Linked DNA regions of Homo sapiens: region 1 is linked to region 2. Evidence: fine-mapped expression QTL. Tissue or cell type: monocytes. Region 2 holds a variant in brackets; the other region holds the start of a gene. All regions are shown on one strand. Distances are from middle to middle.

Region 1 (8,103 bases), 22 kb after region 2:
AAAGAAAAAAAGAAAGAAAGAATGAAAAAGACCCGACTCAAACAACTGATTTTAAAATGTAAACCCATCCTACCTGCATATGCTGGGGGCAGCAATGTAAACCCAGGAGTGTAAGGATTTGTGTTTTGTTCACTGTTGTATCTAGTGTCTAGAACAGTCCCTGGCTCATAGAAGGTATTCAATAATTTAAAAAAAAACAAAACAACAATCAAACAAAACTGAGTCCAGCCTCAGTCACATCTCTATCTGAAGAGTTTCCAAGCCAACAAGTAGCCTTAATACTTGCAATGATCTTCTTTAAGGACCAGTCTTTTCCATGTTTGTCATCTCTCTTGCATGATCTTAGAATAAAGCAGTACTGCACCTAAGTCATCACAATGACCCAGAACTTTAAGTAAAATAAAATTTTCCAAAGCACCATTTAAAGGTTACTTCGTGACAAGCAGAGCATAAAAGTGACATGAGGCCGGATGCGGTGGCTCACGCCTGTAATCCCAGCACTTTGGGAGGCTGAGGCAGGCAAATCACCTGAGGTCAGGAGTTCAAGACCAGCCTGACTAACATGGAGAAACCCTGTCTCTACTAAAAATACAAAATTAGCCAGGCGTGGTGGCACATGCCTGTAATCCCAGCTATTCAGGAGGCTGAGGGAGGAGAATCACTTGAACCCAGGAGGCAGAGGTTGCGGTGAGCCAAGATCGCGCCATTGCACTCTAGCCTGGGTGACAAGAGCAAAACTCCATCTCAAAAAAAAAAAAAAAAAAAAGGCCGGGCGCAGTGCCTCACGCTTGTAATCCCAGCACTTTGGGAGGCTGAGGCCGGTGGATCACCTGAGGTCAGGGTTCAAGACCAGCCTGGCCAACATGGTGAAACCCTGTCTCTAATAAAAATACAAAAATCAGCTGGGTGTGATGGTGGGTGCCTGTAATCCCAGCTACTTGGGAGGCTCAGGCAGGAGAATCGCTTGAACCCAGGAGGTGGAGGTTGCAGTGAGCCAAGATCTCACCATTCCACTCCAGCCTGGGCAACAGGAGCAAAACTCTGTCTCAAAAAAAAAAAAAAAAAAAAAAAAAATTGACATGAGTCCTTTCTCCTCTCCCAGCCCAAAAAAGAGGGAAAAGACATTCACACAAAACTAGCTTATGTCTCTGTGACAGAAGACCTGACCAATCAGCCTAGACAACAGAGTGAGACCCTACCTCTACAAAAAAAATTTTAAATGTTAGCCAGGTATGGTGGCACACACCAGTAGTCCCAGCTTCATGGAAGGCTGAGATGGCAGGACTTCTACTTTATAGAATACTCATATGCATATATATATATATATCTCACATCATTTTATTTATATAAAACCTGTAGAGATAGGCATTATTGGCACTTTTCAGATGAGGAAACTGAGGCCAGGTTCATGAAGCCTGGACCAAAACCCTGAACTTTGGACTTCAGGTCGTGGGCCATCTTAATCCACAACTCATTTCCTTTTTAACTTAAAAACATGTAAATAGTGTTGTACATGGGTTCTGAGATGGGTTTTAAAAAAAAAATCTTTTTTTTTTTTGAGACAGAGTCTTGCTGTTACCCAGGTAGGAGCATGATCTCCTCTCACCGCAGCCTCCACCTCCTGGGTTCAAGTGACTCTCCTGCCTCAGCCTCCCGAGTAGCTGGGATTACAGGCGTGCGCCACCACGCCCAGCAAATTTTTGTATTTTTAGTAGAGATGGGGTTTCGCCATGTTGGCCAGGCTGGTCTTGAACTCCCGACCTCAAGTGATCCGCCCACTTTGGCCTCCCAAAGTGCTAGAATTACAGGCATGAGCCACCATGCCTGGCCACAACCTGAAATGGAAACTCAACAGAGGAACTGTCCTGATTGAAACCGGCATCCAGCTCAGCACCTCCACCATCCTGGGGTCAGCCTCTGAGCCACCTTCTGCTCCAATCCCTAAAGTGAGAAGCTGGCCCAGAAGTCAAATGACTCTGCCAAAGGTCACACAGGGAGTGCATGTCAGAGAACCTCATCTTCTGACTCCACAACCCAACACTTTCTGAATACCTACTATGAGGGTTTTTTCATGCAGATCACACTAAAGGCAAAACAGATTTACCAGCACAATCATTATCAAGTGTTGCTTTAGTGCCTCACTGTGAAGGCAAATGTACCTACCAAAGATGAATTGGGTGTTAAATGTAAGTTCAGAGATTAAAGGACTGAGTTCAGTTTTCACAGTGACACAGAAGTTGCTTTACTTTTAGGAGCAAATGTGACATAAGAGTTATCATCACAAGCAAATCTGGGTCTGAAGAGGGTGACAAAGTAGAATCTAGTTATTGAACAAAAAAACCAGTTAATGATGCCCATGAAAACCACTGTCTGTTGGAGACAGATAAACATATTGATAAGAAAGCTTCAGATTTTTGTTTTCCTTCTGTACATACCAAGTGCTTTCACATACATTATTTTATTTAATACTCAAACAATTCTGTGATGTAAGTATAGATATTCACAGATGGGCATATTAAGGCTTAGAGATGTTTAGTAATTTGCTTAGGGTCACACAGCCAATCAGTGGCATTGCTAGGATTTAAATCTGAGACTCCTAAATTCCAGTACAGAGATCTTTTCCTTAAATAACAGTGCATCTCTGGACCTCTCTTTAAACCGAAAAAATGGGAGAAAAGTAGTATCAAACTTACAGAAAAACGTTAAATTGTTTATAGATTTCTAGGGGACCACCCTTTCATAGCAACAGGAGACTTGAGGCCTGATGGCCTGTACCATCATTTGCTATGTGACCTTGGGAAATGGGAACCAAGACACCTAGGTTCCTCTCCCTGCTCTGACACCGACCTCCTGTGTGACCTTGAGCAAATTCTTCTTCAGGCACAGGTTAGTTCCACTGAGAAGCTACGGAACTGCATAGATGATCTGAAACCCTTTCCAGCTCTGGCATCTGAGCTGTCAAGGAGAGCTAAAGCGCTCCAGATTGCAGGATTCCCACCAATGAAAGGTAAAAGGAAGGCTCTGCTGGTCTCTCTCTCCGAAGGTTCAGACGGTAATTCCGAGGTGTAAGATGCCCTATCCTATGAAGGGGAAATAGCTACAAGAGCACTAGAGGTCTGACTGGGAAGAGCGCCAAAGGGAAAACAATCTGATAGGGAAAAGGGCCCCCGGATTCTCTCACCTGGGAAAACCTCCCAAGCTCAACGCCAGTGCCCGTGGCACCTGCGGTTCCCCGGCCAAGGGCCGCGCAGACAGCGGATGAGAGGTGTGGGCAGTGCTGAGGGGATCAGTCCCGCAGCAGGGCCGCAGCCGGGGAAGCGGCCCGGATGGCGGAGCCGGGACAGAGGCTCCCGTGACCTTCCCGGGCTCGGCGCGAAGCCTGGGCTCTGGCCTGGGCGGATGCGGGTGACGGCAGCCGGGTCTCGGCAGGAGCAGGGCCGGCGCCCCCCCGCCTTGACCTTGACGCCGTCCCCGCCTCTGCGCTGCTGACCCGGCCCGGGGCGGCCCATACACTGCGAGCCGGCCACGGAGCGCGGGGCACGGGCGACCAGGACCGGCTCCCAAGCTGTCCCCGCGGGCAGCCACCGCCTCCCTGTCTGGCCCACGCGCCCGCCCACACCCGGCACGCGACCGGCTCTCCTGCCAGCCCTCGCGGCCTGCCTGCCTGCCACACGCCGGCCTGCCAGCGCTCACCTTAGAGATCCACGCGGGCCCAGCCATCGCTTCCCCTCCTGGCTCCGCAGCAACAGCCGCAGCGGCAGTGCGCAAGCGCCCACCCCACGCTCGGAGCCCGCCCCTGCACGGCCACGCCCCCTGAACGCCCCGCCCCCTAGACCGCCTCAGGATTGCTTCGCGCTCGCTCGCTGCCCCGCCCCTGGACATTCCGCTGGCGAATCGCCGGGCTCGTCTCTCTGTGACTGGCCTGGCTGAGCGCCAGGCGAACCCGGAAACTGAGGGGCCGGCATCTCCGGGAAAGCTTCTTCCTCCCCTCCCTGGTTCATTGACTCGCTGTTAAGGTAAGACGTTTGTTCCACACCTACTAGGTGCTGATTAATGTTCTAGGATCTTGGGGATATAGCGCTCCTCATAGAATTTACAATCCCGTGGAGAAAGACACATAATTTTCTTATTCCACAAATTTTGATTTTTTTTTTTTTTTTGAGACCGGGTCTCACTCTGTCGCCCAGGCTGGAGTGCAGTAGCGCGAACAGGTTCACTACAAAGCCTCGACCTCCTGGGATCAAGTAATTACTAAGCCCAGCCCAACTTTGTTTTTTCTTTTCTTTTTCTTTTTTTTTTTTTTTTTTTTTCTCCGTAGAGATGGGGCCTCGCTATGTTGCTCAGGCTGGTCTGGAACTCCAGAGTTCAAGCGATCTGCTTGCCCCAGGCTCACAAAGTGAGCCACTGCGACTGGCCGAATTTTATTTTTTACCAGCTTTATTGAGGTATAATGTATATATAGTAACATTTACTCACTGTAAGTGTACAGTTTGATGATTTTTAGTAAATGTAAACAGTTGCACAACCATCACCACAATCCAGTTTTTGAGCATATGAAAATGTTCCTTGTGTCCGTTTATAGTCAATCCCGCTCCTGTCCTCAATCCCAGGCAACTACTAATCTGTCTATTTAGCTCAACAAATATTTCTGAGGGTCAACTAGACACCAGGCACTGTTTTAAGTGCTGGGGCTTAGTGTCCAGTAGGAAAGACAGGCTTCAATCAAGTGTCACACACATGTCATTAAAACTGTTGCGCCAAGAAGCAAAAGAGCAAGGAGCTATGGCAAGGCAAAATCAGGCAACCTGATTCAAACCTAACCTGGAGGTCAGGGAATGCTTCTCTGAAGAAATAACATCCATACTCACCTTTCCCCTTGTCCTCTCCCTGTCCATCACAAACTCCTGAGTTCCTGCTGATGGCCAGGCCTCTAGCTGGGTGCCAGGGGAGGTCAGGTGTTTAAACCAGGTCTCTGCTACCCTACCCTGGGAAGAGTTCTATCCAGAGAGGAGCTGCCTACCCACCCAGAGAGGTGATGAGTGCAGTAGAGAAGTGATCCCAAGAGCTTTTATGACCTAAATAATAAACTGCAGCTAAGTCTGTGGCCTTGTCAGGAAGGAGGGCTTTTATCAACCCCTTTCCATTGGGCCCCTTCCCCTCATCAGGCCCTGGCAGTCCCATCCTGAAGTGTTCTCCCACAGTTCCTCCATCCCCAATGTCACCCCTGCCCTCCTTCGGGCCAGACCACCTCAGGCCCAGGCTCTTACAACAGCCTCTTCACCTGCCAACCTGCCCTCCCCTTCAGGCACAGCTCTGACCAGGGCTCGCCCCGGCTCTGAAACCTCCTGGCTCTCCCTTGCACTCTCCTCTCACACCACTGTCTTTTTTCAGCCTGATTTCCCACCACTCCTTCCAGCCCCAAAGACCTGGAGCGCCTGCCAACTAGGACTGCTGGCCAGCCCCCAAATGCTTCCCATATTTTACCTCTCCGTGCCTATGGTCGTGCCATTCCCTCAGCCTCAATGCCCTCTTGCCCCACTTCTACTGGCTGAAATTCTAGCTCCTTGTCAAGACTCAGCTTACATGTTGGGAAGTAGTAAAAGTTGTAAAAGCCCCCAAGACCCACGAATGTGTCCCCCTCTCCTTACTCAGAGCCCTCTAGCACTTGGCTCCCACCTCTCCTGGGAAACATCACATTCTCTTCTGCTGTGTGCCATTGAGAAGATAAGCTTTGGGCCAGGCGTGGTGACTCACGCCTGTAATCCCAACACTTTGGGTGGCCGACGCAGGTGGATCACTTGAAGTCAGGAGTTGGAGACCAGCCTGGCCAACATGGCAAAACCCTGTCTCTACTAAAAATACAAAAATTAGTTGGGCGTGTTGGCACATGCCTATAATCCCAGTGACTCAGGAGACTGAGGCATCAGAATCGCTTGAACCCACGAGGCAGAGGTTGCAGTGAGCCGAGATCATGCCACTGCACTCCAGTCTGGGTGACAGAGCGAGACTCTGTCTCAAAAGAGATAGAGAGAAGATATGCCTTAAGTCCAGAGATAATCTTGATGATCTCTTATGACGTTGTTTCTGGAACAGAGACTGGTACACAAGGAATACTTGCTGCTCAGTGATTGTGAAATAAACATTGACTGACTTTGTCCAGTCTTCATTTAATCTTCACAACAACCCTATGAGAAAACTGAAGTACAGCTAGTAAGTGATGATGCTGGCATTCACACTAGGAAGCTTCCTAAGTACTAAGGCAGTTCTCCTAACTGCTGAACTTTCGCTGAGGGCCAGTCCAATCCTACAAAGGCTTCCCAAGCCATTCTCTAGCAAGTGCACTGTGAGAACAAAAAATGAACAAGACCCACTCCTACCCTCCAGATCTAGTGAGGGAGAAACTCAGAAGTCTCAGATGGAAGTTGGGGGGTGATCAAGGAAGATTGCACAATGGAGATGGCATTTGAATCAGTCCTTGAAGAGGTAAAATGTCAGCAGCTGGAGGGACATGCAGGAAACAGAAATGACCTCACCTTGAGCTGAGATCTGTTCCCTGAGTCAGCCCTTGGCTCCAGAAGCCCCAGTCACCATTCCTCGAACATGTTCTAGAGTTCCTCCAAGATGCAGGTCACTCTCCTCTGGAAAAGCCCTTTTTCCTTGTCCCTTGCACTGTGTAGTGCCCAGAGATACCATCAGCAAAGTATGTTTGGACAAGACGGTGGGAAAACTTTGCCACTCAGGAGAAGAATCTAGAAAGTGCACCCTTATCTGTAATAACAAGCACTATCCAATCCAGGTGTGCTTCACTCTAAGGAAAAAAAAAAAGATTTTAAAATCAAGAGGCCAGGTGCGGTGGCTCACTCCTGTAATCGCAGCACTTTGGGAGGCAGAGGTGGGTGGATCGCCTGAGGTCAGGAGTTTGAGACCAGCCTGGCCAATATGGTGAAACCCCATCTCTCCTAAAAGTAACAAAAATTAGCCAGGGGTGGTGGTGTGCATCTGTAGTCCCAGCTACTCAGGACGCTGAGGCAGGAGAATCACTTGAACCTGGGAGGCGGAGATTGCAGTGATCCAAGATCGCACCACTGCACTCCAACCTGGGTGACAGAGCGAGACTCTGTGTCAAATAAATAAATAATAAAATCAAGATAGCAATTTTTAAGTGAATAAATCAGCAAAACAGAATATACATTATTCACATACCAAATGTTTATTTTTTGTTACAAAAGAAATTCATTTCAACAGTTTTCCTACTTTATTTAAAATATTATTTTCATTAAAGATATGATTGGCAAAGGGTTCATCCCTATCTCTAAGTTAGGAAAAGATCCAACAAATTGGTAAAGAAGGTATTAGGACTTTAGTAAATAAATGGGAAAAGGGGACTGGGCGCGGTGGCTCACGCCTGTAATCCCAGCACTTTGGGAGGCAGAGGTGGGTGGATCACGAGGTCCGGAGTTCAAGACCAGCCTGGCCAAGATGGTGAAAGCCTGTCTCTACTAAAAATACAAAAAATTAGCTGGGCGTGGTGGCGGGTACCTGTAATCCCAGCTACAAAGGAGGCTGAGGCAGAGAACTGCTTGAACCTGGGAGGCCGAGGTTGCAGTGAGCCGAGATCGTGCCACTGCACTCCAGCCTGGGCGACAGAGTAAGACTCTGTCTCAAACAAAACAAAACAAAAAACATAGGCCGGGCATGGTGGCTCATTCCTGTAATCCCAGCACTTTTGGAGGCCGAGGCGGGCAGATCACAAGGTCAGGAGGTCAAGACCAGCCTGGTTAACATAGTAAAACCCCCTCTCTACTAAAAATACAAAACTTAGGGAGGCATGGTGGTGCACACCTGTAGTCCCAGCTACTGGGGAGGCTGAGGCAGGAGAATCACTTGAACCTGGGAGGTGGAAGTTGCAGTGAGGCGAGATCACACCACTGCACTCCAGCCTGGGTGACTGAGTAAGACTCCGTCTCGGGAAAAAAAAAAACAAAACAAAACGGGAAAAGGACCTGAATAATCAATTCACAGCCAAATAAACTTTTAAATAAATGTTCAATCTTAACAATAGTCAAATGCATGCAAATTTCTAAAAAAAATTATTTTTATTTA
Region 2 (8,103 bases):
GGGGCCATGGATGAGATGTCTGAGCAGGCTGAGTCGTGGATGACAAGCCGAGGAGAGGGAAACTTGGGTGAGCATTTGTCGTCGGGGTGCTGCCACCAGCCCCCAAGCAGGTGTGAGTTGCTTTGGAGGGCCTGCCACTGCTTCTTGGCTCCCAGAAAGGGGGCATCTCCAGCTGTGCTGAGGCTTCCGGGTTGTGGTTGAGGCTTGGGTTGTGGTTCAGCTGGGGCACCTGGACTACATTCTGTGCCGGGGGCCTGGCCTTGCCTCCCCAGAATTAATCATCACAGCTGGTGGGGAGAATGTGCCCCCTGTGCCCATCGAGGAGGCCGTGAAGATGGAGCTGCCCATCATCAGCAACGCCATGCTCATTGGGGACCAGAGGAAGTTCCTGTCCATGCTGCTCACCTTGAAGGTGTGTCTGGGGGGCTCCAGCTCAGAAGGAGCAGCCAGTGAGGGGGTCTGTGGGTCTGGCTGGCAGAAGCCACATTCAGCACAGGGCACATCCAGATCTCATGGCTTCATTCTGGAATGACTCAAGTCCGTGCTGCCTGCACTGTAGGAAAAACTGTGGCACGTGGAAATTCCTTCTGTCCCACATAAGCCACCGTGATGATCCTTTACATGTTACTGGCACTTTCCCGTCTACAAAGTGCTGCTGCCCTCCCTCATTGCTCTCTGCAGGTACTTGGACCCCAGGGTGGTAGACAGGCAGGAGTTACCGTCCCTGCTTTACAGACAATGACGTCACTGACCGAGCTCTTCTAATTCTCAGATCACTGCTCCTTCCACAATAACACGAGGCTCAACACAGTAGCAGCTACTCATTCTAGAACCGTCTCTTTGAAACAGAGCTCACATGATTCACACCCTTGCCGACAGCAGTAAGACCTCCTCCAGGACCAGGGCTTACGTCTTGTTGGGTAAGGCTTGGTCCTCATCTGATCTCTGGCTTTTCAGTGCACTCTGGACCCAGACACCTCTGACCAGACTGATAATCTGACTGAACAAGCTATGGAGTTCTGCCAGAGGGTGGGCAGCAGAGCCACCACAGTGTCCGAGATCATAGAGAAGAAGGATGAGGCCGTGTACCAGGCCATCGAAGAGGGGATCCGGAGGGTCAACATGAACGCGGCGGCCCGGCCCTACCACATCCAGAAGTGGGCCATTCTCGAGAGAGACTTCTCCATTTCGGGTGGAGAGTTGGGTAGGTTTTTCCTTTTCACCATTGCAAGGGCTGTGTGGGAAGGCAGAGGCCATGGCAGTGCCTAGGAGGTGCCTGTTAGGAAGCAGCCACGGCAAAGAGAAGGTCATGGCAGGAATCTGGGTGACACCCATCTACTTCCTGTTAGAGGACATTGATGGCTCCATGCATGGGCTTGTGGTTATGTGGAGTCTGTTGAATGTATAAGATATGTGCTAGAACTTCCTTTTTTTTTTTTTTTTTTTTTTTTTGAGATGGAGTCTCGCTGTGTCACCCAGGCTAGAGAGCAATGGCACGACCTTGGCTCACTGCAACCTGCACCTCGCGGGTTCAAGTGATTCTCCTGCCTCAGCCTCCCGAGTAGCTGGGATTACAGGCATGGGCCACCATGCCCGGCTAATTTTGTATTTTTAGTAGAGACATGGTTTCTCCATGTTGGTCAGGCTGGTCTCGAACTCCCGACCTCAGGTGATCCGCCCGCCTCGGCCTCCCAAAGTGCTGGGATTACAGGCGTGAGCCACTGCGCCCAGCTGATATGTGCTAGAACTTTCTAATCTGAACATGACATTTAACTTGGCCTTGACTATGGGACTGTTTTCTCCGAAAATCACAATGGAACTACCAGGCCAACACCAAGGCCCTGCTAGTGTTCAGCCTGGAGTCACGTGGTTCTAGGGGTGAGAGTACTGTGATCTTCCGGAAAGTCAGCTTGTGTGACAAAGGGATAAGGCTGTTCCGGACCACTGCCCACAGAACCAGGAGAGGGCTCTGGTGCAGCCTCAGCTGAAGTCACTCTTGGCTGTAGCCAAGAGATGTTCATGGGATGTTCATAGAACAGGAGAGGTAGAAATGGTTATGCCAGTGTGATTCCCTCAAATCCATCACGGCTGAACCCAGATGCAATTGTCTACAGCAAAGCTGAGCTGCAATCAGAGACCTTGAGCTTATCTGGCTGTCTGCTGCCAGCATATTGAACGCAAGGTCAGAGAGACAGAAGATGTCTTCACTAAGCAGTTAATATAATGACTTTAACACAGAAAGTTTCCAGTTACACAGTCAAGAGTGAGTTAGGCACTTTAAGCTACCCAGGACCTCAAATCAGAGCTCTTTCAAACTTGCTTTTGGGGGATAAATCAAGGTTAAGAAAAGTAATTAGGGGAAGACCTCTCATAAAGACCATGGCAGAGGCTCCCCATAACCTGGGCTTCCCCTACCCCCATCACAACCATCAAAGCATAATGTCCAACGTTGTATAAACGTTCACAAAAATGCAGAGATGATGTGTACTAGCTATCTAATACATTGCTGTGTAACAAATGACCCCAAAAATGTAGCAGCCTAAAGCAGTAAACATTTATTATCCACATTTCTATGGGTCAAGAATCCAGGAACAGCTTAGCTGAGTGGTTCTGGCTTGGGTCTCACGGGATTACAGTCAATGTGAGCTGGGTGCAGTCACTTGCAGCTGAGGCTCACCTCCGCGCTCACTTACGTGGCTGTCGGCAGGCCTCAGCTCCTTGCTGTCTGCTGGCCAGAAACATCCGTGTGTGGCCAGTGGGCCTCTCATGGGCTGTGTATCCTCACAACATGGCAGCCGGCTTGCCCAGGAAGAATGGTCCAAGAGAAAGCCCAAGACAGAAACCTAGTCTATTTTTTAATTGCTTCAACAATTTATTCATTCAAGAGATGGAACAAATAAATCCATTTCAGAGAAAATGGACTGAGGGTCAAAACTGGGTACAGGTCAAGGAAAAGGCAGATGTAGCTTACACTACTTTCCTATGTGTATAAAAGAAACTGATCTTTTATAACCTATTCTCAGAGGTGACATACCAACCCTTCATCTATACTCCACTGGCCACAACCAGTGGTATAACACAGGAGACTACACACAAGCCATATGAATACCAGGAGCGATCACTGTCTTGGAGGCTGGCTACTGACGGTCCTGATTATCTGGCTTAATTCCTGAGTTATATATAGGACTGAGTGTGAGTCTTTACCACACACATTCTCAGAGTTCTCAGAGCCTGGGCCTCACTCATTTCTTCTCATTTCCCTTTTAGGTCCCACGATGAAACTGAAACGGCTCACAGTTTTGGAGAAGTACAAAGGTATCATTGACTCCTTTTACCAAGAGCAAAAAATGTAATCAGGGCCTATGCCTGCAGTTTCTATAGAATAGAGGGCAGGCGTTCCGAGCCTCTTCCTGAGCCCCAGGTCTCTTCAGTCTGGGCACAGGCATTTCTGCCAAGTCTGTTAGATCTCCAGGTCAGGGCACAGCACTGGCTCTACATTTACCAGGTCTTACGCCAACAATAGCTGACAATTCCAAGAAGCTTCACGTGTGGGTAGTTTTAATTCAGTTTAAGTATTGCTTTTTGTTCAGGTGACAAATGAGATCAGCTCTCCTTCCAGAACGAAAGGGCTGATAATTTTTGGCCTTAGTTCCAGGTAGATTAAAAAGCTGCTAGCTCACATACAGGACAGCCAGCAGTAGGCTGTGGAGCGGGTAGGAGAGAGATGGCTGATACTGCTCACGTGCGCTGCAGGAAAAGCAATCAGTCACAACTCACCTAGCGACCTGACTTACTCTGGAATCTTGGCGGGCATCGCCGACCCTATTATTCCATTACCAGGCACTCCGCCACCCACATGCCAACTGACTTGATGCTTAATAAAACTGCTGCTGCCTGTTTGATTCTATTTAATGTATAATTTGAATATTAAACCTTTTAACAGAACTGTCAACAAGGACCTGATTTTTTTTGTCAATTGAGCAGGTGGGACCAGTGCAGAGAGTAGTGGGCATTTAACTCACAGGACTGTGCACAGCGGGCATGCGAGTGACCATTAGTGCCCTGGAATAAACAAAGGTGCAGGATGGGGTCAAGTGGCGCATTCTCATAAAAGCAGCCAGCTCTACGTTAGCCTGTCGCCACCAGACCACCCCACTTCCATTCTGAATACGGGAAGCAGCCATTCTCAGTAGCAAGCTGAGCCAAAATGACCGAAGGCATCTGAACAGGAAACAGGTAGAGAAAGCAAACATCTCAGTTTTGGAATTCTTTATTACTTTGAACCCAAGAGCCACTGATAACTGGCACAATCCAATGAAACAGAGGAAGCAGCAGCTTAAACAAAGGAAAATACATTTAAGATTATAAGTCTGGGGGGGCGGTTACAAGCTTAAAAAGTGACCCAGACAGGGATATCATTGCTAAAAAAAAAAAAATCCCCTTGTGACCTGGGTACATTTTGCAAAGCCACAGGTTTGCAATGTTACACAAGGGCCAAAGGAGGCCATGAGTTGTCTTTGGTTGTGGGGACAGAGGGTAACTGTTCATGAAAATAGTGAGTGTCTGAAGATTAAGAAAATCATGCTGCAGCAGAGGAGAAGGGAGAGGAAGACAGGAAGG[G/A]AAAGGAGATGCCTGAGGGTCAAAAGCTGAGCCCAAGCCTAAGCCCAAGCTCAAGCTCAAGCCCCAGCATGGCATAATTTTGTGAATTAACTCAGGCTGAGTTGCCTCCAGTCTTTGGAATGTCATCTTATACTGGTACTGCTGAGGCAGAGGGCAGTAATTGGTGCTTTGGGATAGGAGAAGGGGCAGTTGCTGAAATACAAAATTAATAGCATCCCAAGTTCCTCAATTGCAGCCAAAATACATGTGTTCGGGCCTTTCGGCAGTATCGCCCCCAGAACTACCTGCTGTAGTGTGGTCCATTCCCAGACAGCAACATGCAAGAATAAGTTTACAATACACTCAGCCCTTCTGGCTTCAGATCAGGGGCTCAGAGGCTGTGACAACTCATGATGCTGAAAATGTATCCAGTGAAAATGAAGTACTAGCTCTCTGCTTCATTAAAAGCTCTTGGAAAGAATATTAAATCTCAAGACAACAAAATAATTGAACACACAATACATTTGTGTCTTTGTATCCAATATATTACCTTTGTCTTATTAACAAAAATTATATCTCTCATTATATATTTCTTGGATCTGAAGTTTTTATTCACACTCAGTAATTTCTGTAAAGGACAAATCTGTCTCTATTTTCCATATCATTTAGAAATATACCACATTCACTCTTTTTGATGTGAACTTTCCCAGGAAAATTCTCTTGTGCCCATTTAGTTTTAGAAGAGTGTCATTTTGTGCTATTATGTCAATATCCTGTTTTATTTCCATTATGTTTTTCAAAAACCGAAGAAAATAAGGTTTTTCTTAAAAAGTTAGACATTTTCTCTTGTTAATTCTGTATCCTGTTATTTACAGCTGAAGAGAAACTATTTTAACTTAAGTGTAAAATGGTTTAGAATAGCAAATGATACAGTCCACTCAGAGTTTACAAAAAAAACATTTACCAGGTAGACACTTAATAAATAAAACAAGCACTTGGAAAAAGTTCTTTGAAAACAGACCTAGGGACATCCACCTGCATCTTTTGCACAGATTTTGTTAAGAAAAGGCCAGATCTAAAAATGTACTGTCAAGAAACAAGCAAACCAATGCATACATACGTAGGTATTCTAAACAGAGGTTCATGTGGTGTCCATTTAGAGTGACTGATGTAAATGCCAGTTGTAGAAGTGTTAATCTAAATCTTTTACTCGGCGACAGATTTCCTCTGTGAAGTCTGAGCATTTTGCATTGCCTCCCAAATCTTTTGTCAAGCTCTGAGAAAAGGAAAAAGCAAAAATAAAAGATGTATCCGCAAACTAAACTAAACCAAGGAGATTTTAAAGCCCTCAGTGAGATGCCACCTGGGCAAGTTACTCGGCTGCTCTTTCATTTAGTTCCTCATTTCAAAGTGAGGAACCACTCCACCACCATCTACCCAGCCCAGGAGGATCGGGATCCAATCTCATAGTGTATACAACAGCACTCTGCAAAGAATAAGGTGCTCTTGATGCAAAGGGAGGCAGGGAGCTTTACCAAAATTTTCCCTTTGTTCACACAATAGACCCTAACCCAGATTAGTTGGTCATGGATATTTAAATAAAAGCGAATCTAAATAAGAAGTTTCATAAAAATCCTTGGGAAATATGTCTCAGGAATAGACCTGAGACATATTTTGATCTATTTTTGTTTTTATTATTATTTTTTTTTTAGATGGAGTCTCACTCTGTTGCCCAGGCTGGAGTGCAGTGGCACGATCCCAGCTCACCACAACCTCTGCCTCCTGGGTTCAAGCGATTCTCCTGCCTCAGCGTCCTGAATAGCTGGAATTACAAGTGCATGCCACCATACCCAACTAATTTTTGTATCTGATCTATTTTTGGAGGCTGGGACACAAATACGAAAGAAATATTTAAATCATTAACTCTTTTTTTTTTTTTTAAGAGACGGGGTCTCACTATGTGGCCCAGGCTGGTCTTGAACTCAGAGGCTAAGGTGATCCTCCTGCCTCAGCCTATAGCTGCAACTACAGGCATGCACCACCACACCTGCCTAAATCATTAACTCTTAAACCTCCCTCTTTAGGAAAGAAAGCCTCCCATACAACTGATCTGTTCTACCAGCTTATCCTTTCTTTCCTGCATACAGACCCCAATATATTTAATTCTCTTTATCTTTCCATCCTACACAATAAAAGGGCCCACTATGTAATTCAGGCACCTCTCTACTGGGCTGTAGATTATAACTTCCCAAATATAACTTTAAAGAATAAGAAAATCATATGACCTCCAATGTGACTATCAGGCTGTTAAAAACAAGCCTGAATTTCTTGTATTTTGGCCACACGATATAATTTCAAATTACAGAATTTTTTTAAAAGAAGGGACCAACTTTGAAGATATTACGCTAAGTGAAATAAGCCAGACTCAAAGGACAAATACTGTATGATTCCACTTACATGAGGTACCTAGAGTAGTCAAATTCATAGAGACAGGAAGCAGAATGGCAGGTGTCAGAGGATGGGAGGGGGAAGGGAAAGTTACTGTTTAACGGGTGCAGAGTCTCAGTTTGAGAAAATGAAACTGGTCTGGAGATGACTGATGGTGATGGTTACATTACAATGTGAATGTACTTAACATTATTGAACTGTATACCTAAATACGGCTAAAATGGCAAATTTTATGTTATGCATATTTTTCACAATTTTTGTTAAAAAGGACCTCAAATTAGGGATGAGTCTTCAAGTGCATTATTTCCTCTAACTTCGGAATAGCCCGCGACACTTCTTCCACAGGCCACAATTGCTTACCGAGGCGGTGGAGCTTGTTGGGTAAGGCCCAGACTGCGTGTTAATACCAACTTGGGTCATTTAGGAGCTGTAAAACCTTGGACATATTATTTATTCTCTCTGTACCTCAGTTTCCTCATCTATAAAATGGAATTATAGCATCTACTTCAAAGAGTTATAGAAAAACTTTGCTGAGATGATATATAAAGAACTTAAAAGTTGCATAAGTATTCAATTAATATTAGTTATTACTTTTATAAAACTTCTGTATTGCTTTTGTATTATAGATGCACACAGTGTAACATATAAGACTATTGTATTAGAGGTACATCTGCATCTGTATCTGCCACTAGATTCCCAGCTCCTTGAGGCTCAGCATCTTACCCTATTCATCATTTTACTCTTCACACCTTATAAGGTACACTCAACAGACGTTTGTTGTGAAGAGTAAAAAGTTGTCTATAAAAATCAATGAACTTGGCCGGGTGTGGTGGCTCATGCCTGTAATCCCAGCACTTTGGGAGGCTGGGGCGGGAGGATCACTTGAGCTCAGGAGTTCGAGACCAACCTGGCCAGCATGGTGAAACCCCATCTCTACTAAAAATACAAAAATTAGCTGGGTGTGGTGGCACACGCCTGTAATCCCAGCTACTAGGGAGGCTGAGGCAGGAGAACTGCTTGAACCCGGGAGGTGCAGGTTGCAGTGAGCCAAGATTA

Which allele goes with the higher level. Alleles are on the strand shown, and positions count from the first base shown. SD is a standard deviation of normalised expression in the study named.
In carriers of allele G in region 2, the expression in monocytes of the gene that starts at base 3,762 in region 1 tends to be lower than with A alone (moderate effect, 0.49 SD a copy in Fairfax 2014).

The links. PIP is the estimated chance that this variant, and not a neighbour inherited with it, causes the effect.
Region 1: IDH3A starts here. The variant in region 2 is fine-mapped to the expression of IDH3A in monocytes (Fairfax 2014, PIP 0.95).

The regions. Positions count from the first base shown.
Region 1 is chr15:78,145,021-78,153,123 of GRCh38, reverse strand. It overlaps IDH3A (isocitrate dehydrogenase (NAD(+)) 3 catalytic subunit alpha), which reads right to left and starts at 3,762. Exons shown (of 11, transcript NM_005530.3): 1 at 3,694-3,762. The coding sequence starts at 3,720. It overlaps LOC124903534 (a long non-coding RNA gene), which reads left to right and starts at 3,905. Exons shown (of 2, transcript XR_007064725.1): 1 at 3,905-4,016; 2 at 5,392-8,103. RefSeq lists a silencer at 3,223-3,802.
Region 2 is chr15:78,166,694-78,174,796 of GRCh38, reverse strand. IDH3A (isocitrate dehydrogenase (NAD(+)) 3 catalytic subunit alpha) reads right to left here. Exons shown (of 11, transcript NM_005530.3): 11 at 2,852-5,875. The coding sequence ends at 5,792. It overlaps ACSBG1 (acyl-CoA synthetase bubblegum family member 1), which reads left to right. Exons shown (of 14, transcript NM_015162.5): 12 at 273-412; 13 at 958-1,204; 14 at 3,268-7,329. The coding sequence ends at 3,353. Among named protein-coding and RNA genes, the nearest start is that of IDH3A, 21 kb to the right of the region's middle. RefSeq lists an enhancer at 6,966-7,265. The variant G/A (reference allele first, on the strand shown) is at 4,621.